Linked DNA regions of Homo sapiens: regions 1 and 3 are each linked to region 2. Evidence: fine-mapped expression QTL. A gene starts in region 2. Each other region holds a variant in brackets. All regions are shown on one strand. Distances are between the middles of the regions.

What was found.
Region 1: its variant is fine-mapped to the expression of VPS50 in monocytes (BLUEPRINT, PIP 0.95).
Region 3: its variant is fine-mapped to the expression of VPS50 in whole blood (TOPMed, PIP above 0.99). The same link has a PIP of 0.9 or more in blood mononuclear cells, cerebellum, lung, sun-exposed skin, thyroid and tibial nerve.

The regions. Positions count from the first base shown.
Region 1 is chr7:93,886,729-93,897,639 of GRCh38, reverse strand. TFPI2 (tissue factor pathway inhibitor 2) reads left to right here and starts at 6,887. Exons shown (of 5, transcript NM_006528.4): 1 at 6,887-7,049; 2 at 7,321-7,503; 3 at 8,417-8,605; 4 at 10,209-10,379; 5 at 10,744-10,911. The coding sequence starts at 6,962. The coding sequence ends at 10,820. TFPI2-DT (TFPI2 divergent transcript) reads right to left here and starts at 6,746. Exons shown (of 2, transcript NR_134235.1): 1 at 6,561-6,746; 2 at 4,052-4,398. The variant C/A (reference allele first, on the strand shown) is at 6,944.
Region 2 is chr7:93,227,067-93,237,977 of GRCh38, reverse strand. It overlaps VPS50 (VPS50 subunit of EARP/GARPII complex), which reads right to left and starts at 5,612. Exons shown (of 28, transcript NM_017667.4): 1 at 5,478-5,612. The coding sequence starts at 5,510. It also overlaps a transcript of HEPACAM2 not described here. RefSeq lists enhancers at 5,092-5,151, 5,392-5,441, 5,532-5,701, 5,842-5,911.
Region 3 is chr7:93,303,765-93,314,216 of GRCh38, reverse strand. VPS50 (VPS50 subunit of EARP/GARPII complex) reads right to left here. Exons shown (of 28, transcript NM_017667.4): 18 at 8,213-8,389; 19 at 5,275-5,393; 20 at 2,945-3,051. Among named protein-coding and RNA genes, the nearest start is that of VPS50, 77 kb to the right of the region's middle. The variant T/C (reference allele first, on the strand shown) is at 5,413.

The DNA of each region.
Region 1 (10,911 bases), 660 kb before region 2:
CTAGAAAAGGGAGCAGTAAAGTGGCAACACTAACAGGAGAAGGATATAGAGTCAAATATAAATTTTAACTTTGGGTTGAAAAGTCAGAGACAAAGCATTCCAGATGGAAATTATTAAAATCTGGGTGTCTTTGCCAAAGAGTAAGAGGGGGCAGAGCTGATGCTGTTGAAGAGAGGAAGGAGTAAAGCCATTGAGAAAACAAGAGAAAAAAGGATGAAGAGCAGTAGACAAGGGACTGGTCTCAGATAGGTCCTGAACATTACTTCCATTGTAAGAGAAAGGAAGACCAAAGATACCTGAGATTCAGTTGACCAACAGAAACAACTAACTCACCCTTCCCTGGCTGGTTCAGAATATGTAGTCGAGGTTAACATATTCAACTCTCTTCTAATGTAAACTTTTCAGCTCCACTCAGTTTTTCCTCAGCTAATAGTCAATAAGAGAAAACACATAGTGAGAGTCCTAGGAGATGTGTGTTCCTTTCAAACTTCAGCTATTGCCTCTTCCTGCCCCAACTGGCAGATTGTCCCTCATGTGTGATTTAAGATACAAAAGCTTTTCAACGTAAGCCAGAAAAAATGAGCATTTGGAGAGCATATGGCACTGCAGTAATCAATGTATAACTAACACGAGATTTTGGCCACTTTATAAAAAGACAATATATTTGAAAGAAAATGTGTCTTTACATTTGAAAGGTCAAGGTCCATTACTTTCTGCTAAATATAACCGTGAAAATGAGGACTTTAGTGATTAAATTTCTCAATCCTCTAATCTGATTATCAGTTTTGGCAGCTGTTCTTCTTAGAGCATTATGGCAATGTATTTAAATTGTAGCTATCTGTTTGCCCTATGAATGAATTATGAACTTTATGTTTGCATAGAAAAGAAAACTGATACAGCGTTGTCCAGGTACTGAACCAGGGTCATGAAAGTATATATAATAAGCTTGACTTTGGCCTCTGTTAATGTGGAAAAAAAGACTGTGTATACAGTCAGTGAGACCAGGGGATCAGGATTTAGACTGCCTGTGCTAACTGAATAGCTTTGGGAAAGTCATATATCTATCAAAAGTTTCAGCTTTCTCATTGCAGAGTAGGGAGAGTAACATATCTCCCTCAAGTCGTTATTGTGCGGGATTTAATGAGCTAATAAATTCAAGGCATAATGCAAACTTTCACTGTTATGTCCACTAGTATTGTGATTGCCAAGGAGATTTCCACATGATATACAGGGATTAGGGGAACATTCCTCTTCCTTTCTCCACTCTTGATGTGCCAGAGGCTTAGTAACCAAGGCTAGAATTTTGGCTAGGTGGTGAGGCAGCACTGAGTTGGGAGGTCTCGGATAAAAATCATCTAAAATTTGCCATAATCTTCTGGATGCCATACACAGTTAAAGATGTAGCAATCTGAGTGAGAGAAAAGATGGTCTGCATCGCAAGTAGACATAATGACACTTGAGGGAATGTACATCCAGGAAGTAGAGAAAAGTGGTTTCTGAGATTCTGCTCCTCTAGCAGAAGGCAATACTTTGTTACAACCACAGCACCTAAAATAGCCAACCAAAACAAATAGATGAAGGAATGAGTCTCTGTATTGCATAGGCCTAGAAGATATAGTGTCAGGTATGTTTGCATAGAGTGGATTTTATTTGGAATTGAGCTTTGCCTACCTTTTATTTACTTCCTCCTCTATAATCCTATACAACCTAGTACATATTTTTGATGTTGTACTAAGAACATTGTAATGTAACTGGGTTATACAGTGTTCATTCATCTACCCTATTATGTTATGAGGTCCCTCATATTTGTATCCCAAATGTCTAGCATAAAGTTTGTCACACTTCAAACATTTAATCAGCTCCCTTTAAAGTAGATTAATGAAGGAATGAACACAGTAAGAGATACGTTATATACCCTCATTATCTCTTTCTTTCTAGGGGGAAGGGGATTCATAAAATTAGGCACAGAGGATACCCCATCCTTTCATGTGGCTTCATCTTATTATATAGCACTCTCAAATGCACTCTGTGCCTGACAGAGGGTGCATTAGAATAAATGTTTCTTACATGGCCCAGCTGGTTAGAAAAATACCTAGTTGGTGAAGGAGTTGCTTAAACTTTAGCAAAACCCTCATGACCATTTACTGCTCAGAAGAGATTAACTATCTTTCTTAGCAGATGTGTAAACTCATTAGTGCCAGCTGGACTCATTTCAAGTTTTATTTTGGCAGGGCTTAAACTAAGAGGCAGCAAAAACTGTCTTTGTTTATTAAGGAGTTATCAGTGTAACTCCTTAAATACCTATGTTACATAATATGTATCCCCAAATCACTGGGCTCAATTAATTCTCATCATTCACTCATAAGCCAGACATGCTACCTCTCTCTAAGGTGTCTGAGAGAGAGGAAGACCATCTGCCACAGTCCATTTCTTAAATTCTTGGTTCACCTACCGAGACGGCAGGGCTCTCAGAGGATACAGTATCATACTCAAGGCATGGGAGGGGCTAAACAGGTCAAAATCAACTTCATTTGTTGTGGGGTCCAGGGGTGTGGTGGTGAGAAAGATCAGAGGCAGCAATCTGACACATGCAGAGGCGCTCCTGGACTCACTGCAGCTTTTGCATTTTTAAATTCTGGTATTTCATATTCTGCTTTAAGGTCTTGGTATGGTAGAAAGAACTTAGGTCTAGGTGTGATAGAAAGAATATAGGACTAAGAATCCAGAACTGTGGATTCTAGTCTCAGGTCTGCCAACAACCATGGCAGGTAAACATGACCAGATGCTTAACCTTTCTAGATCTCAGTTCACACTTGTGTAAAGTGAACATACTTATAGTTCCATTCAGCATTCAAATTACAACTCCATGCCTTATTTTTACAGAACTCCAGACTATTTTGAGCCTTTGTCTTTAGCCACAGACAATTTAACTGTCAATTGGTGTAGCAATGACAAATCAATCTGGATGACTGTTTTTCCCAGTTATCTCTAGCCTTGCACTTCCTGTTGACTTTGGACAAAGGAATTACTTTCCTCAGCCTTGAGGCAGCATTTTGGGCTAGACACTGGATTAAGGAGATAGAAGTGCTATGACATCCCTTTGGAGGCTGATTGTGGTGGTCATGTTGCTCCTTCCAAAATATTCTAAATGTAAATTCAGTAACGTCAAAGTAGTCTCCAGGAAATTCAGATTACCCTTATATTGGAAGATGTCTTTTTCATGGATATAAAAATACTCAATTATTTATGCAATTAAGAGGAATACTTTTTTTGTAATAACCTGGGTTAGTAATCTCAAACTTCTGCCAATTCCACTTCTTTAATTCTCCTTTCTCCATCTGTGGTCATAGAGGTTTTAAGGATGCACCCTGTTTGGCATAGAAAAGTAGAAGGAAACCAGCATTTCTAGAGCATCTCTCGGGACTGATTCCAACCTGCATCTACAGACCACACCACAGAAGGGTGAGAGGCCTGTTTTTGCCCCCCTCCCATTTCCACTACATGCCTTATACAGCAGCCCTGAGTGGGCTGAGGATTCTGCTCTGAAATCCCCTTGAAGCTCATTTCCCTAGAAGAGACTACCAGAAAGTGTGACAACTTCATGGGCAGAGAGGTGGTCTCTGAGCTTAGTTAAGAGAAGAGCTGACAGGAGCAAGGACATGGGCTTTAATTCTATAAGGCCATTTCATGTTGCTCTGTTTCCTGATGGGAGTTTGATGCTCCATCTCAAAATTGTGTGCCAAGGCTCTCAATGGGAAGTAGGATATGGGATGATCTGGATGAAGTTTGTGCCATTGTGTGAGGGGCTAAAACAATATCTTTGAATGCATAGGCATTTTCCATTTAATCCTCATAACACATCTGCGAGGTAGAGTTATTATGTCTATTAGAAAAGGAAACTGAGGCTCAGAGAGTTTTAAGTAACTTGTCCAATGTAGCAAGGAATAAAATCCAGGTATCCTCTGAATTCCAACTCTATTTTTCCATGGCACGATGCAATTTCCCAAAATGTCTGTCTTGATACAAAAGGGCTAATCTTTTTTTTTTTTTCTTTTTAGTCAGATTCAGAGTCTCACTCTGTCATCCAGGCTGGAGTGCTGTGGCACGACCATAGTTCACTGCAAATTCAAACTCCTGGGCTTAACCAATCCTTCCATCTCAACCTCCCATATAGCTGGGACTACAGGTGTACACAACCATGCCCAGCTAAGTTAAAATTTTTTTTTTTGTAAAGATGGAATCACACTATGTTGCCCAGGTTTGTCTCTGACTCCTGGCCTCAAGCGATCCTCCTGTCTCAGCCTCCCAAAGTGTTGGGATTACTAGCAGAAGCCATTGTGTCCAGTGGTTCATTTTTTTTTTTGTATGAGCGAAAGACAATCAAAAAGTGTCCAGCACCTGAGAACAAAGAGAAATGGCAGTAGTCAGTGCTCCATGAAAACTGAGTATCAGTCCTTGAATTTTATTTTAGTCTAAAGATATATTTAATTTTATTCAGAAGATAGATATAGGTAAGTTTGAAGTTGAGTCAACTTTTCTCCTGAATATGATTCTCGGTAAATGAGTGGTAAAATTCCCTCCCCTAATAATATTTTGAAGGAACTGGGAGGGTCTAATCTGACTTTACTCTGAATGTGTCATTCCAAAACTGGCTGTCTGTCTCAGTGGTTGGTGCATTAGAGCCAGCTCACACAGATTTTGGCCATGGGGAGCTCTGGCTCTTGGAGATCTTTTCCCACCTCGGCATTCAGTGATTCTGCAGTGGCAGCTTGAAATTGACCTTAGTGAGCACATTTACATCACAGAAATCAGTTAACTATACAAAGCATCCCCATCCCATTTATTTTTCCCTACTGGAGAGGTGATAATTAAACATTTATCCTTATAGTTTCAACTATCATTCTTAATCATAGACATCTGCTAATCAAAGCTGACAGCATTTCCAGATCAGGCTGGTTTTCCTAGGACTGTGACCTTGTAACATGACATCAGAATGACTGAAAACTGGCACAAGGATATAATGTGCAAAATACCTCAGATTATTAACCCACTTTGAGCAAGTGTGTCCTATACTTTTCAGGGCTTCCTGAAAACTTGAAAGAGAACTTCTGTAAACTACCCCCAGTATCCTCAGAAGTCAAGAATAATTATTTACTTGAGAATGTTGAATACAACAAGAGAAAAGGGGAAGGGAAGACAAGTATATTAAAATGTCTTCAAAAATATCTTTAATATTTTATGTAAAATTTCACTGTAGGTAATTGTTTGTATTAAAAAAAAAAGTGGATCACAAGCTAATATGTCAAAGGAACAGGGAACTTTAATGGATGCACTGACATTAGGAAATGTGTGGGAATACACTGATCTGGTCAAATCTTCAGAACTCCCCAAGGCTATCTCTCTGGGCTGCTATGGTTCTTCTCCAAAAACATAGATACATACAAAAACATAGCTTCATACATGCTTGGTTGGGGTGTAAAATGGTACAATCATCTTGAAAAAATCCTTTGGCAGTGTCTAACATTTCTAAGTATTTTATCCAAGAGTAATAAAAATTGCAGGTCCACACAAAGCAGCTTTTTTCATAAGAGCCCCCAAACAAACTAGAAACAACACAAATTCCAGTAATAAGACATTTGTGATATATTAGAATATTACTCAATGATTTAAAGGAACAGACTATTGATACACACAGCAACATATTTATACATTGTGGGATATTCATACGTTTTGGTAAATTCATACCTTGGACTACGCAGGAATTAAAAGAAACAGACTATTGATGCAGTGACCTGGGCGTATCTCAAAAACAGGAAGTGTGAGAAAGAAATACTACACAGTGAATACTTTATAATTCCGTTTATATGAAATTCAAGAATAGGCAAATCTAATCTATGGTAATCGAAATGAGAAGAGTGTTTGCCCCTGGCCTAAGGATGGAAGGATTGATTTAGGAAAAAGTCTGCAGGAGCTTTCTGGAGTGATGGAAATGTTCTAACTCTTTTTTTTTTCTTCTTCTTCTTCTTTTTCTTCGTTTCGAGACGGAGTTCCACTCTGCCGCCCAGACTGGAGTGCAGTGGCGCCATCTGGGCTCACTGCAGCCTCCGCCTCCTGGGTTCAAGCCATTCTCCTGCCTCAGCCTCCCGAGGGGCTGGGACTACAGGTGCCCGCCACCACGCCCGGCTAATTTTTTGTGTTTTTAATAGAGACGGGGTTTCGCCATGTTGGCCAGGCTAGTCTCGAACTCCTGATTTCAGGTGATCCACCCGCCTTGGCCTCCCAAAGTGCTGGGATTACAGGCGCGAGCTACCGCGCCCAGCCAAAATGTTCTAATTCTTTATTGGTGGCTACACAGTTGTCAAAATTTATCAAACTGTCCACCTACGATATATTATAAGCCTGTATTAAATGTAAATTAGAACTCGATTGAAATCTGTGTGTATAAATATAAATATACACTTATTTACATTTCTAATCTAATCTGAAGGTCCATTGCAACGAATCCCGCTCCGCTCTGACCCAAGAACTCCGCACTTTCTCTCCACCAGCCTTTCAAATACCTGAACTTCATGCCTTCAAGAGGTGGATTCCGGCTTCTTTACAGCGCAATCACTAGCAGGTCATTTCCGTCTAGCTTGCAGATTTCCCATTACTGACACAAACGCTCCCTCAGGGCGTCCCCGTCTGGACTACAGGAGAAAGTTTGGGAGGCAGGTTCAACTTTTCAACTTGGCGGGGAATTCCTCTCCCTCTTACACAGTTTGCAGCGCGGGGGCGGCGGGGTGACAGTCCCCGTGCATGAATCAGCCACCCCTCAGGCTCCGCCCCGGCGGGGGTCGGCCGGACGCTCGCCCCGCATAAAGCGGGCACCCGGGCCGCCTGGAGCAGAAAGCCGCGCACCTCCTCCCGCCAGGCGCTTTCTCGGACGCCTTGCCCAGCGGGC[C/A]GCCCGACCCCCTGCACCATGGACCCCGCTCGCCCCCTGGGGCTGTCGATTCTGCTGCTTTTCCTGACGGAGGCTGCACTGGGCGATGCTGCTCAGGAGCCAACAGGTATCTGGCCGCTCCAGGAGCTTCTCTCCCCAACCGGCGGAGAGGGCGCAGCGGGCCATGGGGCCCCGTGTAGGCGCCCTCCAAGCCTCGCTTTCTCCAGGTCCCTGCCGCGCGCTCCGCTGGCAGGGGGGACTCGCTCCCAAGTTTGCACTTTCTCTGCAGAGGCCCCTCCGCTCGGAAGGGGACAGAACTCCCCGGGATGTTCTTTCCTCCTAGGAGCTACGCCTGACCACTTTCCCTCTCTTTTGCTCTCCTTCTGCCCCTTCTTCAGGAAATAACGCGGAGATCTGTCTCCTGCCCCTAGACTACGGACCCTGCCGGGCCCTACTTCTCCGTTACTACTACGACAGGTACACGCAGAGCTGCCGCCAGTTCCTGTACGGGGGCTGCGAGGGCAACGCCAACAATTTCTACACCTGGGAGGCTTGCGACGATGCTTGCTGGAGGATAGAAAGTAAGTGCCCTGCGCGCACCCAGGACTCTCGCGCTCCTTGCGCCGGCGGCTGGTAGCAGCTTCGCCAGTTTCCCACGTCTCGCTTTCTACAGGAAGTTTTAGCCTGGGTTTTCTCAAGTGTTAAGCAAACCTCATGGTTTTCAGTTTCTTAAAAGTAATCACAAATTTACAACCACTAACACATTTCCTGTCTCCCAACTGACATTGATCATAATTCAGTGCCTGTGCGGACTCAGGGAAAGATTTGTTCCCTCACCATGGGGTATAATAAATGCAAGAGAATAACGTGTTAGGTACAACGTAAGTGCTTCTCTGTATTTTTCATTAATTCCAAACCTATGATTTTTATCTCTCCTGGAGTACATCATTTCCTTCTGTCGATTATCCATCAATCTGAAATATTTTTAGTGGATTTTATTATTGAAGTGTGACTTAGCTCATTATATAACTCTACTTTTGTCCCGATACCCAAACATGTGTTGGATTAGTTGCGGGACATGGTGGAGATTCATAATACTGTTATATTTTAATTTATTTTTAATTTTTAAATTATATCGGTTAAGGCCTGTAAGAGAACATGGGGCTTTTCCATTCAAGGAACTGAGCCAGGGGAAAATGCGTATTCATGTGAATAAGCTTTGATTCACTGCATATGTACAATCAGAGAACACCCAGAGAAAACAGAGAGTCTTTCTACTGAACTTGAAAGATACATCACAGCTGAGTCAGCTCTGAATACACTGTTAGAAAAAAAAAAAGTAAATATCTGGATTCATGGGAGTATTCTGGGTATTTACTATCCCAACACTAATACAACTTCTCTCCCCCCACAAAATGTTGCTGAAAATACAGTGATGGTTTAATAAGAAGGCTACTTTTGACTAACATTGTTCTATTACCCTCCTTTTCCTAGAAGTTCCCAAAGTTTGCCGGCTGCAAGTGAGTGTGGACGACCAGTGTGAGGGGTCCACAGAAAAGTATTTCTTTAATCTAAGTTCCATGACATGTGAAAAATTCTTTTCCGGTGGGTGTCACCGGAACCGGATTGAGAACAGGTTTCCAGATGAAGCTACTTGTATGGGCTTCTGCGCACCAAAGAAAAGTAAATACGATTTTTATGGTATTTCTATTTCACTTTTTTGAAAAGACATTTGGGTGGAAAAAACTCAATTTGATGCGAAATTAACATGTGCATTTTCATGATTTCACATTACTTGACAAGTTAGTGACTTGTCAAGTTCTTAGGACTGGAAAGTGACAAAGCCATGATTCAAATTTTTGCTTTCTGCCTCTTCTGATTTGTTGTTTTTGAGACGGACTCTCGCCCTGTTGCCCAGGCTGGAGTGCAGTGGCACAATCTCGGCTCTCTGCAACCTCTGCCTCCCGGGTTCAAGCGATTCTCCTGCCTCAGCCTCCTGAGTAGCTGGGACTACAGGCGCCCGCCACCATGCCCAGCTAATTTTTTTTTTTTTCTTCTTTCTCTTTCTCTTTCTTTCTCTCCTTCCTTCCTTTCTCTCCTTTCTTTTTCTCTTTCTTTCTTTCTTTCTCTTTCCTTCCTTCCTTCCTTCCTTCCTTCCTTCCTTCCTTCCTTCTTTCCTTCCTTCCTTCCTTCTTTCTTTCTTTTCTTTCTTTCTTTCTTTTTTCTTTCGACGGGGTGTCACCGTGTAAGCCAGGATGGTCTTGATCTCCTGACCTCATGATCTGCCCACCTCGGCCTCCCAAAATGCTGGGATTACAGGTGTAAGCCACCACGCCCAGCCCTGAATTGTTTCTTTAGAACTATTTCTCAGCTACTCAATTTATGCATAAAAGATTAAAGTATTCATTAATGAATGTTATGACCTCAGATTTGTACACAATAAGTTATACATGTGAGATAGTGGAATATATACAGAATTAAGATGGTGAAACTTGAAAATTTCTTTCTAAAGTTTTCGGTTAGATTTCTGTATTCTTCAGTAATTGCAAATTGCAGCACAAACATCTCCACACGTTTCTGTCCTATCCATTTGTTACCTCTCCCACCACCACCCCTGAATCCTTGAAATGATAGTCTCTTGAGTAGTATTTAATGTTTGCAGAGGGAGACAATACAGGCATTTCCCCCAGACACAGAGATTTTTGAAAAGTTCAACAAACAAGGAAAACTTGCTTTGGCAGAGAATTTGATAAAGCTTTATAGCTGTACTGTGTTGAATATGCAAAATCTTGAGTTAATGTGGTGATGGTTACTGTGGATGTTCTCTTGTTTGTGTACATATAAATGTTTGCTCCAGTGGTTACCTGGAAATTAGTATGCATATATTATTGATTAATAATGGAATGAGAGCTGTTAAAAACATTAAAGCAAAACTACCAACACGACAAAATTTACCAAATCATGCCACATATTGTCCTTGAAACTTACCCCATTTTTACCTAACCATATCTGGTATTTGGGTTTAACTTCTTTTTACATTTAAAGGATACAAAGATGTAGCTTCAGAAGAAATTCTATCCAGTTTACAAAAATTTAGAATTACCAAAATATAGCATGTAAGCTTACCTGCAATTTGAAGCACATCTTTTTAAAGGTTTAGTATGATATTTTGGATTCAGACTGAGGCTTCTATGGGATTAGATTTTCTTCAGTTACTTCAGTAATCACCATAATTTAAAAATTCTGGTATTATAACATTTCTAATTTTCTTCTCTTTTTTATAAAGTTCCATCATTTTGCTACAGTCCAAAAGATGAGGGACTGTGCTCTGCCAATGTGACTCGCTATTATTTTAATCCAAGATACAGAACCTGTGATGCTTTCACCTATACTGGCTGTGGAGGGAATGACAATAACTTTGTTAGCAGGGAGGATTGCAAACGTGCATGTGCAAAAGGTAGTGAATGTTTTCTTATTCCACCTTTAGATAAACTTTATAAATAACTTATCAGAAAAATTATATTTTTATTTATCCATTTTACTAATAGCAAATTGCTGTTTCTAGACTACTTCTACATAAGTATCTCCGTAGTGTTAATCAGTTTTGTCAAAATGCTTTTACTGGCTAGCTGCAGTAGACGGTAGCTGTATCTTCATATCTTAAAGGTAAAATATTATTAACTGAGTGTATAATGAGTTTTGACTTCACAGTCCTTAAAAATAAGATGAAGTGAGCTCAATAACCTTATCAGAAATAGTGATTTATAGTGAGCCTACAGACTGGAGATGTATGATTTTCATTGTCGTTTTATTGATTTTAGCTTTGAAAAAGAAAAAGAAGATGCCAAAGCTTCGCTTTGCCAGTAGAATCCGGAAAATTCGGAAGAAGCAATTTTAAACATTCTTAATATGTCATCTTGTTTGTCTTTATGGCTTATTTGCCTTTATGGTTGTATCTGAAGAATAATATGACAGCATGAGGAAACAAA
Region 2 (10,911 bases):
GTTCCAATAAACCCATCATATGAGAACATATGGAAACATACAGAAGAAAACAGACACTGAGACTGCCTGAGGGTAGAGGGTAGGAGGAGAGAGAGGATCAGGAAAATAACTATTGGGTACCAGGCTTAATACTTGGGTGACAAAATAATCTGTACAACAAACCCCTGTGACACGAGTTTACCTATAGAACAAACTTGCATAGGTACCCTTGAACTAAAAATAAAAAAAATTTTTAAACCCATTATAAGTGGAAAATACATTTAATAATCTCAATAAAACCATCATAAACTCAAAAATTCATTAAGTGAAACCATAGTAAATCGGGGACCATCTGTATAGATTTGCTTAACTAATCTAACAGAAATCCCTGAAGAAATATATCATATTTAATTTCTCTTTCCCCAGAGCTAGTCCGTAAAGAAACCAATGCCTGAAATGTAAACGTGATATATACCAATATCTAGAAAAAGTAGTCACCACACAACAATTCAATACCAATACACGGCAAATTTCTGCCAAATGTACAAAATAAAAGTAATACAAATTGAAAACCCGTGTACATGTTAGGAGGATGTAGAGTGAAGTGATTATAGCAATGGGCTCTGGAGCAGACCACTTGAGTTTGTATCCTGACTTTCTTGCTGTGGTTTTGAACAACTTATCTATCCTTTCTGTGCATTATATTCTATGATCATTCATAGGCTATTATAAGAAGTAAAACAGGCCGGGCGTGGTGGCTCACGCCTGTAATCCCAGCACTTTGGGAGGCCGAGGCGGGCGGATCACGAGGTCAGGAGATGGAGACTATCCTGGCTAACACAGTGAAACCCCGTCTCTACTAAAAATACAAAAAAAAAAAATTAGCCGGGCGTGGTGGCGGGCGTCTGTAGTCCCAGCTACTTGAGAGGCTGAGGCAGGCGAATGGCATGAACCCGGGAGGCGGAGCTTGCAGTGAGCCGAGATCGCTCCACTGCACTCCAGCCTGGGCGACAGAGTGAGACTGTCTCGAAAAAAAAAAAAAAAAAAAAAAAAAAAAAAAAGAAGTAAAAGAGGTCATGTATGTGAGAAGCCAAAAATACTGTCTCATATATCTCAAGCATTCTGTGATGATTAACCATAATTCTTAATATTTTTATTATGACAGAAATGCTTTCCTTTTATCAAAACAGAAATGAAGAATTACATAAATGTCTCAAAGCACATCTGACATTCAACTGTACTTTAGAATTACAGATTTTTAACACTTTATCAGTTTTATAAACTTCTACTAACAAATGAAGTCATTCTTATTTTATCTTCATCTCTCTAAAGCATGAAGTCATGGTTTTAACTACAGTTCTCTGCCTTTATTAACACTTTGATGCTATCATTAACCACTATTTGATTTTCTTTTGTATTTGATGTTTGTGTTGATAATTCCCCAGTTTAGACATATAGAAAATTCAGCATAAATTAACACTCGCCTCTTCATTTACCCAAATCAGATTAACACTTCAGACTACTTCAGTTATGTCTACATTAATCCTCATTTTCCATTTACGAAACCAGCAACTATGTCTTATCCATCCAAAGAAGCATCTGTGATGATTTGTGTTTCCTTCTCCTTTCGGCAAAACTCAAGAGTGTTTACACCCAGTCCCTAATTTCTCTCCCCCTATTTTCTCCTGAACCCACTCTAATCAGGCTTTCCTCCCCACAACTTCATGAAAACTGCTGTAGTTGGGGCACCAAGGACCTCCACGCTGCTCAATCCAAAAGCACATTTCTCATTCTCACTCTCACCTTACTTGACCAATCTGCAGCATTTAACACAGCTAATCACTCCTTACTCTTTTAAATTCTTTACTTGGCTTCAAGGCAGTCTTCTTGGTTGTTCTCTTCATCCCACATTCATGCAACAAATATTTATTGAGCATCTGCTATATTCCAGGTGCCATTCAGGAAGCTAAAGACTTCTTACCTCACAAGCTGCATGTTCTCATTCTGCTTTCCTAGATCCACCACTTCCCCCTGAGTTTTTAACACTGGATTCTCAAAAGCTCCAACCTTAGATTCTTTGTATATCTACACTCATTCCACTGGTGATCTTAACCAGTTTATATGCAATCTACATGTTTGTAACTCCCAGAGTTTCAGCTATACCCTGGATTCGCCCCATAAATTCAGATTCATCTGGCCAACTGCCTGCTGTATCTCTCCAGTTGAATATTTAAGAGGCTTTCAAATTAACAAGTCCAAAAACCATGTCCCTTCCCTCAATCTGTTCCTCCCTCAGTTTTATCCATCCGAGGAAATGGCAATTACATTCTTCCAATTGCTAGGGCCAAACTATTTTGAGTCATCCTTGATGCTTCTCTTTCCCTCACAGCCCAAACCCAATCTGTCAGGAAATTCTGTCACCTCTACATTTACAGCATATTCACAGTCTGACCTCTTTCAACACTTCCACCACTAGGGTGGAAGGCTTACACCCACCCTCTCACCTGGATTACCACAGTAGCCTCATCATTCACCTCCCCTGGTTTTGCTCTTTTCCGCTCTTCAATCTGTTCTTAAAACATGGGTCCAAATGGTCTGTCTGAAGTGTTATGTCCAATTATATCATTCCTCTATTTGCCATTTCACTCAGAATGAAAGCCATGACCTTGCTATTACCTATAAGGTACTACATGATCTAGCTTCCTGCCTTCAGTCATCTAACCTCATCCTAACCTCATCTCCCACTACTCTTCTCCTCACTCACTTCACCCACACAGGCCACTTGCAATTTCTCAAACAAGCTCCTGCCTCAGGACCTCTGCATTTGCCTTTCCTTCCACTGGAAATGCTCCTTCCCAAATATCTACCTCACAGAGTTCACTTCCTCACCCCCTTCAGGTTTTTTTATATTACCTTCTCTGTGAGGCCTTCCGTGGCCATCCTATCTAAAATTATAAGTGACCTCAAATCACCAACAATTCCCAGGACTTTCTATCCTCTTTTCCTCTACAGTGTTTATCACCGTGTCTGCCTTAACACTTGTCTATTTTTTTTTTTTTACTTAGAATAGTACCTGGCACAAATTGCTCAATAAACATTTGTTGAATGGACTGAAAGAACAGAGGTGAGCATGATGGAGAAAGATGAAGAACAGATCTCATCTAAATAAAGAGAGCTAACAAAGCCTTCCTTCCTCCCATTATTTTGCAAACAAAGATCCCAGGACAGCTGAAATGTCCCAAAGCTTAAATTTCACAGACCTTAATTTCCTATCTCTCCATATTAACTCAATATATATTATTAGCACATTCTATAGGTTCAAAAAAAGAAATACTTTCATGTATACTTACTTGTAATCCTATTAAATTTAACCCAATAATAAACTGTACTAATTCAAACCCTCAATGTAAATAGCAGGCACACTAATTTCATACCTCATAGATTCAGGAACTGTGCATCAGTATCAAATATGTGAAAGTCAAGCCATAACATATATAATTAGGATAACTTTAAATATGTATGCAAAACTCCTAATTTTACCTCACTTTGTACACAGTATGGTTCCAGCTTTTTGTATGTGTTCTTTAATGTATTTTTTTCCATTTCAATTAAACACAGGTTTGACCTGCTGAAATTCAATAAGCAACTGACTAAGGCTTAAGTGTTACCATTTTCAGCACAATTGCATTACATTTAGGAGACATACACTTATCACTGCTATCTGAAATTTTTTTCTCTCCTCAGTTTTACAAAATGAGGTCAAAAAAACTAAACCAACCACAGCTACCATACAATTATGACAACGTTAACTACACTGAACTGTATGGCAGGCAACAAACTTGAGACAGCATCAAACAGCTGATGCACAAAAGTCCAAATTCAGCATTCCAAAGGCAGTTTAGAGGTATTAGTGATATAAAGTACAAAAGTATATATTGATTTAAAAATCAAACAGGTACCGAAGTCAGCATGAACTTATCTATTGCTTGAATTACTGCAACAGCCTGCTTCCAATTTTCCTGCTTTCCCACCATCAACATAGCCAATGTAACTAACGGTCTCTGCGTTCAAGCACTTCCTTGATAATGCCCAGGAACTCCGTTAACGCCTTAAACTCTTTAACTTCATTATATCATGTAAACACCACTATCAGGCTAACTCCATAAGGCACACATTATTCCTATTTTAAAGATGTGGAAATAGATGCTTAAAAACGTTATGTAACTTGCCGAAAGTCACACAGCTGCCACAGGATACAGCAGGACCCAAACTCATCGTCAAGTAAGAAGTAGTAGGACGCACAACACCAGTACTCAACACATGTGAGGAATTAACAAATGTTACTAGCCACTTACTTAAATATTTTTATTATTCACAGAACATTTTGATTATATTTTCATAACATTAACAAAATGCTCTGACATAACTAAAATAATCATGTAAGGGTCATTTGTGCATTGTGCAAGAGAAATACACAATTTGTATCCTGTTTATATATCTCTCAAATTGTGAATTCTCAAATAAGAATGTGGAATTTGAGTTATTTTTGTAATCAACAAGAAAAAAACTCACAAATATACCTTTCACTAAACGATTACCTTCCACATTCTCCAAACTTCTAAAAGCCATGTTGATTTAAAACTCTAATCTTAACTATCTTTCATATTAAAATAATAAAATGACCAATTCTAGTGAAATATTAAAGCTGAAGTAAATAAAGGCAGCTAAAACAAAGTCATAATCAATAAGTACATAAAAGAAAATTTCTGCACTTCTTAAATGAAGCTGAGGCATTATTACGAGGTCCCTAACATTTATGAGACAGGTTACAAAATAGCCAAAGCTCTTATTCATGAATTTCCATTCTGGGGAAAAAAAAGAAAAGATCAGTATTTTGCCATGACAAAAATAAATTTTTTAAAGCAGAATTTCACAAAGAGTTTTCACATATATTAGCTTATCGATGACCCTCATAACAGAACTGTGAAGTAAAATGAACAAAAATAATTATTTTCACATCCAGAAACGTAAGCTACAAAGTTTGGGGACTTGCCCAAAATCCAAAAGCTACTAATTCTGTCTTCAAATCATCCGTTTTCAGTCTTTCCAGGTCACCTCTACTGCACAGACCACACCACCCTACCCAGGCTATCAGCTCGCATATGACAGACAGCCTGGATGCGGAAGACCTTGCAAGGAAGCTCGGGCTGTTCTGGAAAGACGGCAAAAAGAGGAGGAGGGGAGACAAAGATACCCTGATTCCTTCAATGACTTATTTTTAAACGAATATTTCTGGGAGGCTGGTACCCGCTGGAGCAGTGCTCCAACCCAGGCGGCCCAGGTGAGTTTTCTAGGGTATGCCCCGGCTTCCCAGTCCCCCTGACACCTGCCACCACCCATAACTTAGATCCCCGCCCGCCACTGGTTGGGGACAGAACATCTCGGCTCCTCTCACTTCCGAGATGAAGGAAGCCTTTGCTTCAGCCGCCGCGACTTACCTGTCGGGTCATGAGAGATTTGATTTTTTGCATATCGAAATCCTGAGGAGGGTACCCTGCCTCAAAGAGCTAACAAATCACACCGAGCCACTACACAGCTGGCCCTGACACTAGGAAGCCATAGTGGGTGGTCACGTGGAGGAGCCGACCCAGGGTATCCTGTCTTTCCCTGGGCCTGCTGGGAACTGTAGTCTTCTGGACGCCGGCGGTAGCAACGATGAACTAAAGTGGCCAACCCAGGGACTACATCTCCCAGCAAGCAAAAGAGCGGGTGCTTCAGTTAAGCCGGTAAATATTACTGCTCAGAGCGACCACTGCGATCGCCGGTCTTACAAAGGTGCTTGCACTAGGCAGTAGCTACTCTTCGGCGAGACGGAAACCTAAGTCACAGGTGACTAGGCGTTGAGCGAAAGATCAAACTCAGAGGAGACAATATATAAGCCAGATTGACGCGATGTCCCCTAGGAGTGTGAGGGAGGAAACCTCACCTGGTCTAGAGGGGCGGGGTGGGAGAACGAGAGACTGACGCGAAGGAGAAGGAACTCAAGAAAGGGCTGTCACTGAGGGGTAACCTGAGAACTCGAGACTACCCCGGGCGCGCTGGGTTTGGCCTGAGGAAAGGTGTGCTCTAGGTTGCCCAATAGGCGGCCCTCCAGGTTTAGGGCTGTTCTACCTCAGTCTTGGTATCCCCTGCAAAAGCTCTAAAATCGAAGGATTTTGACGCCCGCCTATTATTTTACCTCCGTACTCTAAAGCAGTGATGACGGGAAATACGACAATAACGAGTATACCTGTCACTTTAAAGTCCTCTTTTCAACTTTTGGCAGTTTAGTTAAATTGGGGAAAGGAACAGAAGTGTCTTTGGGGACACAATTTTAAAAGGACTTTACAATTATGAGAATATGAGAAGAAGAAGAAAAAGCAGCCCTAAAGCTAACAATGATAGCTAACACTTATCGAAAGCCGAGTACCTGTCAGGAACTGCTAATAGCTTTAAATATATGATTTCATTTATCCACACAAGAATCCTGTGGGTTCCCATTTTAAAGATGACGAAGCAGGTATGGCGAAATTAAGGAACTTGCCTAAGATTACTGCAGATGTGCAAGTAGAAACTGAAGGATTAATCGGTCATCAGATGTGTTAAGATTTTCATGTATTGTGCTGAAGAAAGTTCTAAAGCATGGCACCAATTTTTTTAAGTTTATTTTATTATAATGTTAACTTCTAAAAGTATGACACAGACCCATAATTTCAAAAATATTTCTTAGAATAAAAAAAGTTCAAGTGTGTCAACGTAATAAAAAATACTAGGTAAACAATAGTATGGGTGGTAGTCAGATATGGCAAAACTAATAAAGGTGATTTGCAAATGACTGAAGTTTGGGGGACACTAACAGAGGTTATTTCTGATTCTGAAATTCTATTTTCTCACCCCTTAGAGCCTCGTTTTATTAATTTTTACAAATGAGGTTGTAATATTTTAATATTTTATATAGGGCTTTGTAAGGATAAGTGAGATGATGTAGGTGAATGAAATGTATAAATTGTAAAGCACTATACAATTATGAGGTATTATTGGTTTTGATTCTGCCCAGTTCTCTACTCCAACAGAACCACCTTGTGCATACTTGTATCATCACTGCGTTCAGCAATTCCTTTGAAATTATATGTTTACCTATATGCTTCTCTGACTCTGTTATTTCTAACCCCTTCAAGAAATTCTGGTCACATTTAGGGCAAGTCTAGTTTAGTTTATTCTTTACCTTCTCTAATCTTAATTGTCAGACTGTTCTTTGTGTGTGAAAATCTGCAATATTTAGAAGTCCCTGAAAGCATCAAAAGAAACAAAAACTGCCAGCCATATTAGCCTATAAAATAAAACCCAAGTCAATAAACATTTCTTGATTGTTGCGCTCAAGGCAACACTAAAATAAGCACTTTGATTAATAATCTATGGTTGTGGTCACAAGGAGTTCACAACTGGGTTTAAAAGCATATCTTAGGGGTGATCTGAGTTCAGTAGATCTCAAACCTGACTGTTCAGATTCACCTGAGGTGTGTGCTGTTATTATTGTTGTTTTCTTTGGGGATGTTTGTTTGTTTAAAATCTTCAGTGATTCTTAAAGGCAGTCCAGCTCTAGCATGTCAAATCCATGCTGTAAAGATGAGAAAACGTATCTGTATAAGGGTTCGAGACCACATATTTCATGAGAGCTTGATCTAGGACTAGAACCCAGATTCAACCCCGGAATTTTCTCCCTCACATACTCAAATACACAAAGTTAAAGATGATCCCCCCAAAAAGTTTTTTTTATCTAATATGTGTATTTCTATTGGCCAAATTCAGAAAAATGAGTGTTATCCCTATCTATTCGACACTGAAAACGCAAGAAAGTATTGAAACTTTGTTTTACTCCAAAACTCTACATTTTAGTTTATTTCCTACAAACTGGAGAAATGGATAAAAATGGATACAGTCTTCTAAATGTTTTAAGGCTATAACTATAATATTGAAAGCTTGTAAAGTAAATCAGCGCTGGTGTCTAAATAAACTATATTTTCTAATTCAGCATACCTTAACACTATATGAAATAATTGAACCTTACGTTATTCATTTCTATCTGTCTACGCTCAAAAAAACAAAAAACTTGGCATCCTAACAAACACTTTTTAAAAGGTTGGACATGCTGCTATTTCCTTTCCAATTTTCAAAAAGGTATTTATTTTTAAGATTTATTCAGGACTTTCACATTTACCTGAGAGCTGTTGTTAGTGATAGTCCAGTGCAAAATAATGGAAAGTTTAGATGGTCTGCCACCAAATCCTGGGGAAGGTTGGCTGGATACCAATTCCTTGGTAAAGGAGTGCAGAGCCAAGAGTTAAGTAAATTGATCTGATTCAGAACAATAGGATTAGTAGTAAAGTAGGATAAGGGCATATTACTAATGGCCCAAAACAGGAGGAATGTCTGGAAGCTTAAATAAAAGCTGAGATCCTGGTTTGATTAGAAAGATAAAATTTCTTACCACTCCACAAATACCAAAGCAGTGGAGAGATGCAGCCCCTCCAAGATGATATGACTACACTTCTTGAGCAGGCCATAACAGAAAACAGAACACTTGCCAAAGGTAAAGTAGTGACCTAAAGAGGTGCCCAGGAAGAAGACATTACTGCTTAGTATTTAGCAGCCATATAAGATAGATCAAGGCTTCCACGAGGCAGCTTTGTAGACTTTACAGAAGTGAACACTAGCACAGGCATAGGCATATGTGATAGCCTCCTCTGGCAGCTAACTCTCCCTGTAAACTGGAGAGAATCCACTAATTACAACAATAAGAAACATTTCTTTCCCCAGTTCTTATTCCCCACTGTTCTGCATCTACATTGACCTTGGCATTTCACCACCTCTCCTTAATTGTTTCTGCCACTGCAAAACATGCGTGTGCTAGCTACTTGTGATTAAAAATGTGGATGTTTGAAATGCATGCAGCAGACATTTACTGTATGAAGTAATACCAGTCTGCAATTTAAATAAACTAGATTGTAAACTGTGTAGTGTGATTTGAGAGGTAATAAAAATCCCTGCCCCCAACAAACATACACACACATACACACACACACACACACACACACCCTCCTGCACAGGAGTATATGTGTCCATATCCCATTGTAAATGCACGTGGACACACACACGCATACTCTATCCCAGTGGCTCCTTACATTGCTTGCAGTTTAATCACCGTGGATATAGATTGTTTTAGGTTAATCAGCCTTCTCATTTTAAATGCAAATATAACTAAGATTGGTAAACAGTAACACTACAGGCCCTTTTTTCCTGACTGGAATGATAACAGCAGAACTTCCCAGTGGGTTACAGGTGTGATGTGAGATATGGATGGTAGGAAAATTCTTATAATTATAAAACCTTCAAACTATTTTTAAGAATCATGTAAAAATTAACAATTGTTGAAGTTAAGCTTGAGCACTCTTTTTCTCACTTCCTGTGTAAACATGTTGAAATCAGAAGTTACTCCAGCAGGTAAGAGTTTATATCTACAGTTTACCACTAGAGGGCGCTTTGTCATGATTATCCCAGTAGCCCTTTCCCTAGATGTGCCGTATTATATTTCAATATGTGCCATGAAATAAAAAGATTACAAGTAAGATTCATATGGCATTTATTTTTTAATGTAGCATCTACTATCACCTTATGTCATGAAACAGGGAATATTTTCAAATACAACAAAGAAAATCTCAGAATAAAAAACTCCTTTATATTGAGTATATTTAACACTAGGGAAAAACACAGTACATTGTCTTTATTTCTCTTTTTGCCAGGGACCCAACAAACTTCATTATAATCCAGCACTAGATTGAAAAACACTGAAAACAGCTAATTTGATAACGGCAATTGGAGATTAATATCAATCTAAAAGATGTTGGGGGAACCTATGTGATATCTGTAGAACTTCCATATTACTTTCCAAATTGTATTTTGTGCAATCCAATATTAAAATTTATTTGTATTTCTTACGCATCAACTGAGAATCGTAAGACGGGCCAAGGAGCACTTAGAGTTTTGTTTTCTGGAGAAACAACTTAACAAAAATACCAGTTAAGCATTATGCTACGTGCCCAACATCCATGAATGAATAAGATTATTCTCTGTATTCGAGAGCTCAGAGGGAAAATAAACATCCAATAAAATAAAGATTAAGGAGATAAGTGCTGCAATAGATGTGTGTACCAGATTTAGAGACAGTGCAGAGAAAGTTGTGGCATTGTTATTATTTTGCAGGGAGGTGGGGGAAGCATGAGGAGCTCTTGCCATTTTTCTGAAGCATGGAGGGATCTGAAAGTGACTGATCTCTGAAGAGGACTTCGTTTTCCCAATAGTCACTTACTTTCTTTGCTTATAGAAGTCCTTCTAGAAGAGTTCAGAGCCCTAATGCAAAGAGTGTTTCCAAACTTGGATTCCAAAGTTACTATCATTCCTTTTTTACTTTAATTATGCTTGAGGTATAGTCTTCCTTCCCCTCTTATCATTGAACTTCTTCAGTGGGCCTTTACTGTTAAAACTGATGCATGCAAGGAATTTTCCTTGATTTGATGATTTGATGCAGATTTGGATATATCCTTAACATTTTATATAACAAGGCTAGAACCAGAGCCTTCTTGCAAATAGGGGTTAACTAATAACTTAGTAAATTAAGCGGACATGCTTAGACTATCTGCTGCCATGACAATGGAGAGACCAGGTTGAAAACCTGTAACCTGGACACTGCAGTAGAGGTAAGATCTTTTCTAGATCATTGGTTCACTTCCTCTATGCATCAGCTGTGAAAATGTGGCCTCAGATACTATCTCCTGGCATGCACTTTTCATTATAATTATGCATGGTCCATGCCTCAGTCCCAGTTGGAAACACACC
Region 3 (10,452 bases), 76 kb before region 2:
AAGCACCAAAAATTAATCTGTCTTATTTACACAACCGTACTTCTCCCTTTGTAGGAAGAAGCATGACCTCTGCCAGTTTATAATCTTCAGGCACTTCTATGCAATAACAACAGCGGATGGAATAGTGCATTTGCTAGTCAGAGGCCTCTGAGACAGTGGCTTCCTTAAAGTTCTGTTTTGTATATATCTAAAAACTGAAGATAAAAACATCCCAGGGAGAGAGAAAATGATAGGCATAAAAGTCTACTGGGGATCCCAACTGGGGTGATAATGGCAGCACCTAATCCCAGTCCTAAATGAGAAGATATAAAAGTTAAATTGTCATACTCGGCATTGTTTCCTAATTGCAAGTCCAGTAAAAGATATGGTAGTGGAGAAAGCTGAAATTGCAATAGTCAAATTCTCTTCACAGAGTAAGGCTTTATTCAGGACTGTGCCATACTTTACTTTACTTTAAAGGGTCTTGAATGTGGCTTTTCTCAGTTCCTACAAACCCACTGTTCAAAAGCAAGGCCCACTATGTTGATCAGTAATCCTCATACAAAAATTTGTTGTTACTAACATCTGAATTCAGCACCAGGAACATATTTCTACCATTATTATAAAGGCCTGTATCTTTTTCTCAGATAACGAGGATAGTGGTATATATTGTTTCTTCAATTCCCTTATGCCTACCAAGAAGTTAAGCATTGTATTTGATGTCTGCATTAAATATGATATGATAAAGCATGATGTGCCCACTCTTCAACTTTGTCTTAGCCTTGTATTTTATTTTATTTGATTATAATGAAAATATGCCTTCAGCGTAAACAGCAACATGACTACCTCCAGCCCCTTTTGAACTAGGTAAGGTAAAAAATATAAACAACTGCTTAGATGTGTTTGATTATATTATTTTTCCCAATTCCCTGTAAGAGCAATATACAGCCCTGCCCACTTCCCTTGACTTGCAGTGCTTCCTGCGGCAGAAGCATACTTCTCCCCTCCCTTTGCCAAGCCTGACTTGCTTTGGCCATGACATGTCAGAGGAAGTCAAGGGTGACACATGGAAGCAGAAGCTTCAGGAGTCATAACATAGTTTGCTTTTGCTCTTCTCCCCATGTTCCAGATTGGTTGGTACTATTCTTTCAACCTACATCTTAGAATGAAGAGACACACGGAGCAGAGCTGCATATAAACAGGAGACAATGCGTATCACGAGTGAAAAATAAAACTTTGTGGTTGAACGTCTTGATGCACCAACAGTTGCTTGTTACTTCAACATAATCTAGCAAAAGCTGACTACATCTCAAGGAATGTGTTCGGACATTGAAAACTGCTGAGTCTAGAAGGCTAAGGAGGATGACAATGATTCTGAAAGGTCTGAATTTCTATCAGTGAGGACAAGATAAAGGAACTGAGCCCATGGAGCCTGAAAAATGGATTGTGGGGTGGTCGGTATGAGAAAAGGAAGCACGATAACTACCACCACATATCTGAAAAGTGATCACATGGAAGAATAGAAGAATTAGAAGAAATGGAAGATAGAGGAAATAGAAGAATAGAAGAAATAGAAGATAGAAGAAATAGAAGAATAGAAGAAATAGAAGAAAAAAATGCACGAACTTATTCTTCTTGCTTCTAAGGGCATAACTCTTAGACCAAAAGGACAAACCAAAGGCTAGAATCACAGAGAGACAGGTTTTGGTTTACCTTAGGGAAGATACTTCTACTAATGAGATCAGTCTAATGATAGAATGAGTAGTCTTGCAAACCACTGTGTTTCCAATGACTGGGAGTCATGAAACAGAAGCTAGACAGCTACCATGTATGAGAGACATTACAGAAAGACAACCGACTTCATGGCAACTTACACCAATGACCACTCAGCACTCTCCCAATTCTGATTCTACAAATTCTCGAGAGTTATTTCTGACACTATGTTCAGTCAGTTCTCTTGGAAGAAGAAGAAAAGCTTAGCTCCCTGGCAATAATTAGCCACAGAATAGCTTTTTAGAATCTATCCTTTTTTCTGAGCATCATGAAAAGGTATACCTTTCTGTTCTTCTCAATTCAGTAATATTTTTTGCTCTTTCTAGAGAAACCGTGACTCCTAAAAAGCATTCTGTACATTTTATCCTATTCATTAATTAAATTTAAGAATTATCTTAAAGAACACAGACTATTTCAACAGAGCTAAGGTTAATCAAACTAGGCAATAGGTAAATACCATCTCCATAGATAGAATATAGAGATTTTTATGGAAAACCACTAAAATTCCTGCTTGGAACAATGAAGTTTAATAGGAGAAGACATCTCTATAACTTATTTGTCAAATACATAGACTTATTTGTGAGATACAAAGGCTAAAAGCATACAAGATGTTGAAATACTGATTTTAAAAAAATCCACATCATCCTAAAACCTGAATATTTAAAATATCATTTCTTCATATTGTTTGCCTTCTACAAAATCATCAATAAAGGTCTTATCTGTTACAAAAACAACATTTCCTATAATCTGAACATTTAGCTTGTAAATCCCTTGTGTCTGAAAATGCCAGAAAGTCACTATTCACTCTGCCTGACAGAAGATGGTAAAGACCTATGAAACAACTAAGTACAAAAATATTGTATAAATGTGAAACTGGTACTAACTTATCTTACACATACCTCTAACCTACCTAGAGAATTTTTCATCGCATTTCAATTAACTGAAATATTTTAGAAAAATTGTAAGATACAAAGACTTAATAAACAGGTAACTGAAAAAGAAAAACTGGCATTACTATTAGTATTATAGTATTTGGAACATTTAAAATGAGAAGCATTGACATATGATAACCTTAAATCCCTCATTGCATAGAGCACTGGAGTATACAAGACAATAAAAACCACAAGTAAAAGTCATTCGGTAACAAACTAATTTAACTGTTATAATTTTTTTTAAAGGTGTAGCTACTTACCAACAAGTCTTATGACGTTCAATGTTGTATTTGTTAAGATAGGTGCATTCACTTTATTTAGACTGTAATCTGATTTCTTCCTGCTTTTTAGAGTTTCCCGAGAAACACTTGATATGGAAAAACAAAACAGAGTTGCTAGAGTTGTCAAGTAATAAACCAATAAGTTAGTCAGATAGGTCCCTAGCCTTTATTAACTAATTATTTAATGAAAATCTTACTATGCATTAGGTAAAGATATAGAAATTAACTTCTTATAAAATTTACAATCCATAAGGGAAATAAGTAAGCAAAAAAATAAAGTACCATAATGCATTTCTTCGATTATAAAACATTATCAACCACTAAAAAAGCTACATCTCTTTAAAAAACTGATTTTCCAGGATAATAATACATCTAGGTGCAAATGTACTGTTTCTTGATTTCAGAAACTTATGAAAAAATACCCTCCTAAGAACGTGAATTAAGTACAGAATATTGATGGCAGTATTTGGGGTTACGGGGCAGCATAAGGTTCAAAAGAAAAGTAAAAGCTATATGGTCAGCACAGAAAAAAGGGCCGGCATAAAATAGGGTCAGAGATAAGAGAGAACAGAGTGCGCTCAGAAAAGTACAAGGAGTTCACCACGTTCGCATGTAGAAGAAGTGAACAGAGGGAAAAGTGACAAGAAAGGAGGCAAGTAAAGGCCAGATATCTCTGAAAGCAATCAAACCTGAGGGATATGAACCTTATCTTGAACACAGTGGTGAGTCACTAAAAGCTAAGCAGAAAAACAGCATGATTAAATTTGTAACTATGAAAAAAAAAACCCCTAAATTTAGATCTAAGAGTTGTTTGGAATGGGGCAAGCCTAGAGACAAGAATCCAAGGTAAAGGAGTTGATTTAATAATCTGGCACAGAGATAACTTTGGCATAAACTAGAATGGTAGTGGTAAAATACAAGAAAAATTGGTCAATTCAAGAGACACAAGTTAGAACTGATAATATCTATTAATTTATTGGCTTCAGTTACTAATTTGTTCAATTCAAACTTCTTAAGGGTAAAAAGTTTAGGGGGCTCCAGTAACCCTACCAAAAATGGAGGTATATACACATGTACTGGCAGACACTATCTTACTTGTACATTTCAATTCAAATAGACCTTTCCTTTTGGCCAAAATATTCCCAAAACACATCTAATAAAGAATTCCAACAAAATAGTTCTATTCAGTTCACAGTAGATCATGCTGACACTTAATATCATACATACGCAAAAACCAATAGAACAAATTTTTTCAATTAAAATAGCTACAACTACGTGAATTGCTCACTTTTGAAAACAGAATTATTTCAGTCGAGATTTCAAGTTAAACAGTATTAAATAGGTAGCTTAGGGTTAAACGATAAGAATATACTTATCATTAAGAATCTATCATTAAGAAATCTATCATTAAGCAAAAAGTATATCTATAGTCACTAAATGTATGATAGTCATGAAATCAAGTCATTTTAACATTCCAGAATCAGGCCCATTTAACTGGCAAAAGGTAAGAAAAAATTCTCTTATAATTATCATAGTTTTGAAGAGGTCAGTTTATCATAAAACAAAACTCAACCACTAATAGGACACCTTGATAGAAGGTTCAAATAGTGAACAAAAATGACATAGGGGAAATAAGTGGCGACTTTCTGTGTTTATAAGATTGAAGCAAGAACTCCACATACAAAACAAATGACCATTTTCTCCTTGAGGATTTTTATTTATCTATGTAAAGCATAAATGGCCACCAAAGGCAGGATTGATTTTATAAATCTAAAGGCTTTTTCCTCTGCAAAAACTAATCTCTTTGATTATGCCCAATATTTTCAACAAGATAATAAAGTAATTTTAACAGATTTAAACAAATCACTAACTTTGTGATACCATAAAAAAGGAACTAGAATCTTGCTACAAAAAGCAATGTCAAACAAACTGTATAACTCAAAGGAAAGCTACATTAACACTAGCCACTTAAAAGTTTTTAAATGGCTAAATCAATTTCTTTTTTGACACATTAACAATCCAGTTCACAGTTAGATGAACTGATCTGTGAGATACCAGCAAAGGTTTTGCAAGGCAGAACTTTTCATATAACTATTTTAGTTTTCCTGAAATTCAGTTATGAAATGTTAAGAGGAACAACACATTTTTAGCCTTCCAGGAATCATTTTTTAAAACATACTAACTTCTGTCAGGTGACATTATAAGTACCAAAAAAAATAATTTTTGTTTCTTCTTAACCTTAAAGGAAATCCTATATGTTAAGAGCACAAGATAAAATGCTAAATACCACACAATTTAAGAACAATCACCTTTTCACAGGACCATCTCCTGTCTGCTCATCCACATAGTCTCGTTTGAGTTCCTCAGGAACATCACTGTCACTGTCATACTCTTGATAGGCACTCTTTTCTTGTTCATCAGATTCATACTGAAGAAAACACAGGTTA[T/C]TAAAAAATGAGTATAAAGGGCCTCTTTTCGTGGGGTGTCTCAACACAGTGAAAGTACTCAGTTTTATAAGAAACAGCTAAATACAAGAAAATTCTTAATTTAGCTTTAATGTTGTCACCAAGAATCTAATTATTCTTCCATTGTCTTCATCATTCTACCTCAATCAGCACAAAAGAAAAATATTACACCTATAAAAGCTTGAAAATGTGCAACAAAATCAAATCGCCATAAACCAAAACCTAACAAACATTCCACTAGGCCTAAAGAGTATACATTCGCATTTTTTTTTCTTAAAGTCTCTCAGAAGTTTCACCATACTTATTTCCAATTTGCTAATAAAACTCATTAAAAAGAGGTTCAGTATCCAATTCTGGCATTCTGGAAGTATTACTTCAGCTTAATAAACACATGCAACACACATGCTGATGTTCTAATTCACTATAAAATTTAATTCCGAGGGCAGCTTAGAAAATTAAGCTTAGAACACAGGGACCTGCTGAGAATGAGGACAAAAATGGTGGATTTACTCTTGAGACAAAGGGTGTCTTCCTAACATTTTCATCATCTTTATGGCACCATGGCCCAATGCCAGCATGGGAAAGACAGTGGAATTCATGCACACAGTAAAGGAAGCAGTGACAGCACTTTCATCATCATCATCATCATCATCATCATCATCATCATCTATTAATGTCATAGATTAATACGATTAAATGGCTAACATTAATATCATTAAGTAATAGCTAACACTGAGTTTTTAACCAAGTATTATGCTAAGTGCTTTCATGAATTATCTCATTTAATCATACAGACACTTCTATGAGGAAGTTTTATCTCCACATGACAGTTGAGGAAACCAGTATGATAACAACATGGAAAGAATTTAGCCCCCTAATTCAACAACTATTTTTTGAGAGTCTGTTAATAAAAAGCACTATGAAAGGTCGTATTTAAATGTGGACCCTGATTCTCAAGGACATAAGTTGCACCTGGAAAGATCAGATCACACATTAATAACTGCAAACAAGCCTTACAGGTACTCCTTTATACTTATACACAATGTGATCCTGATGCTATGCAGAAAGGTATTCTACATAAACTAGGATGTCCTGATTACAACAACAGAGGTTTGTGACCACACCGTATCATAGATACTCATTATTTGAGGATTCAATGTTTGCAAATTTGCCTACTCACTGAAATTTATTTGTAACCCTAAAGTCAATACTTCTGATATTTTTGGAGTCAGTCATAAACGTGCAGAACAGTGAAAACTTTGAGTCATCCAACATGCATGTTCCCAGCTGAATACAAACAAGGCATGCTCTGCCTTCTTGCTTAGGCTCTCATACTATAAACAAGTTTCCTTTTCTTGACCTATTTAGTGCCAAGTGCTTTGTATTTTTGTGCTTTTTGTTGGTGATTTAACTGTTTAGAATGCCACTGCAAGTGTTGCGTTGAAGTGCTGTCTAGTGTTTCTAAGTACAAGAAGGCTGTGATGTGCCTGAGAAACAAAATATGTGTGTCTGATAAGCTTCATTTAGGCAAGAGTTACAGCGTTGTTGGCTATGAATTCAGATTATGTACTGATGGGCTGATAAACATGTCGTAACCCGAGGCTCACAGGAACCTAATCCTATATTTGCTCTGGGAGTAATGGTTCAGTATTTGCTAATTTAGTATTCACAGCAACTTTATAGAACACACTGCTGCAAATAATGAGAATCAAATGCTATCTAAGTTTTAATTAATGAATCACTTTTATAGAGAGATATATTATTCCAAAATAATTGGAATGACTTTAAATTCCTCTCGGTTAAGCCAACTTCACAGAGGCAAAATGTCACAAAGAATCACTGAATCATAATTTTAAATATGGCTTACTATGAAACAATTTAAACTTAATGAATTTTGTCTTCACCAAATGAAAAATAAATTCTAAAACTAACATAAAATATAAAGACAAATCCTTCAACATATTTTGTCACATCTGAATGGTTTTCACTTTAGCTTCATCAAATCAAAAATAAAAATCATATTGGGTCATTATGGAAATTATGAAGATCAGAAGAAACCATCAAACAAAATATTAAGTCAAGTAAAATACTGTGAAAACACCATGCAGGAACTGTGAAGCAAGCATTCCTCTCCCTGTAAATATGGAGAAACTGAGGGTCACAAAGTTAAAATAATTTGCCAAGGGCCACACAGCTGATAAATAATAAAGATGATATTCATTATTTGCCTTCAAATCCTTTCCACTAACTCACACTACGTCTAGTTAATATTGTTTTTGAGGTCCTCAAAGTGTTGTTAAAACATTGTACTTCTAAATCTCAAAAAATATCCCTGCCAGGCAACTATGCAAGACATTACCACTTTCTCTTAGATAAAGGGACATGGAACAAAATGAATCAGTGACCCATAAAGGGTGTCGAGAAAAAGGGTAGATGATATCTATTCCGTCATCTCACAATATATCACATAATATTCACATAATATATCACGTAAATATTCAGTGAAGAAATTACACTACTACTTGATTAGCAACCTGATAAGAACATCATGTAATAAGAACATAAAGCAAACATAAAGGGAAAATTTACTATTCAAGAGGACAAGGTCAACAAAGCATATTGTAAAGTCATCATCTATAAATGTAATAGCATAGGTACATTAAGTATACAGGCAGGCAGGGTGGTAGTAAATGGATACGTAAATGTAGTGAATTGCCTTGTTCATTGAGTAGAACAGTTTTAAATAAAAAAAACTCACTTATGTTTCACATACACCACATACCCCATTAGAAGCTAAGACATCTTCTGTTTCTTCATCTTTGTGGTTGGCCTGAATTTCAAATGGATTCCCACCACTACAGTACTGCTCAAACAAGGTCACTGTTTTTGAAGAAGTTGAGACTGGCTGTTTACTAGGTGAAACTGATGGGGAGCGAGACTGTTCCATGAATTTAAATTCCTAGATGTTAAAAAAGGAGCCAGATACCCTTTAGCAACAATAAAATTCTAGTACATAAACCGAATCCCTCAATATACATGTAGAGTTAGTAGAAAAACAACATCTTGATCTTCAGTTTATTGACTTTTAAATCTTTCAAGTTATCTAAAAGCACAAACTTGGAAATACACATCTAAAGGTTTTCCTAAAGACAACTCAGTGAATGGTATCACTTAAAACAGTATCATCTGCATCAAGCTACTTTTGGCTTCCTTTAAGAAACTGCAGAGATCATTTTTTAAAATAGCTTAAGAAATCTGAATGATGTCTTCTAAAAATTTTAACAGAACAGCAAAAATCCTAATCAATAAAGTCATTTATGAAAACTAATTGTTAAACACTTCTCTTTTTCATATGCTTGCACCACTTAAGATATTCTGTACAAATACATCAGAAATAAAGTATGAAGTACATATCTGTGTTACATTGACGCCTACAAACTTTCATTTACTTTTCGCTATATACCAAGAAACAGACAACACAAACATATATGCCAAAGTCATATGATGTGTCTTCTACTCCTAGCTAAGCTAAAGAGTTGTAAGACCCAGTCTAAGTCATGCATTAACCACATGAGGAAACTGAGGCAGTCTGAAGGGATTCAGTGCAAAGTTCAACATCACACAGCTAATTAGAGGAAAAGTTGGAATAATCTCTAAAGTTCCTTTGAATTACAAAAATCTTGATTTAATGATTTATCACAAAATTTAACAAACATTTTTCTTTTATCTAAACAGAATAATCCCAAATTTAAATTTATTCATTTTCAATGATATTCTTCAAAGGTATTCTTAAAATTCTTGAAAGGTACATTGGCTTGTTGTATTAAATGATATATGTGTTTATTTTCCTTTTGCATTTCAACTATACATTTAATCATATATATTATAATGCCTAAGAATCATGCCATTATTTTTATAATTCTAAATAAGGAGTGAATATACATCAATGAGACTAATTTTTAGAAAATCAAATCCACATGAATGCATGTCAGGTGAACACTAAGCTGTGAATAGTTTTCAAGGTAACTACTTTAAAGGAGATAATGTTCACCTAGATGGGAATGCTTCAACATGCCTTTTTTAAAAAACATGTCTTACAATTATACTAAGTTTGACAACGTGACAGCACACACACACAGTCTGATGGTTAAAAAGGAGTTCAAATAAAATTATTTAATAGATATTCTAAAATTTATGTTAAACTTAGAATTCTAAATGATGTTAAGGAATTACCTTAAATCTTTGAGAATTCTTAAATCCTATGTTAATTTAATGTTAATGCTTATGTTAATACTAATTAACATTAACATTAATTTTGCTGTCTTTAAAGCATTTATTAATTGCTATGTTCCAGGGTTTTTAATATTTCTATAATAGGAAAACAATATAATAAAACTGGATAAGAAGCTATTATACAATATGAGCATAAAGACAATCCCTATCAAAAAAAAACTTGTAATTATGTATTCTTTACATTTATCCAGAATAAGAAAATTGCTTTCTAGAAAGCCACTCCTTCCAAAGGCAGAAACTAAACACACCATACTTTCTGAACAAGGATCTAACTATATGCACTGCATTTTGACACTTGATATTTCCAGAACACAATCTTTCACACAAGAATATTTATCTACAATGTGTTTCAACCAAGGGAAAAATCAAACCAATTAAAGACTTTTTCAAAGACTGCTTATTCTGTAAGTATTCCAGGAATTGATTAACTAATACAAATTAGTTAAGAGTATTTTTTATAAGTGCCTCTTTTATTTCTGAGGCATTTTTTCATTACAGGCAAATTTAAGAATTGCAGCACAAATTAGGAACCTACTAGTCCCTTTAAGAAATGAAAAATATTCTACAAATATAAATAAGCATTTGTATTAAACTATGCCAAAATATAGCTAATTGATTATCTGCAAAACTTAAATACAGCAGTCACCCTTTTCTGAATTCAAAACAAACAAAAAATATCATTTTAACTGTAACTCTTTTTAGGCAAAAGAGATTTCCTAAAGTATGTAA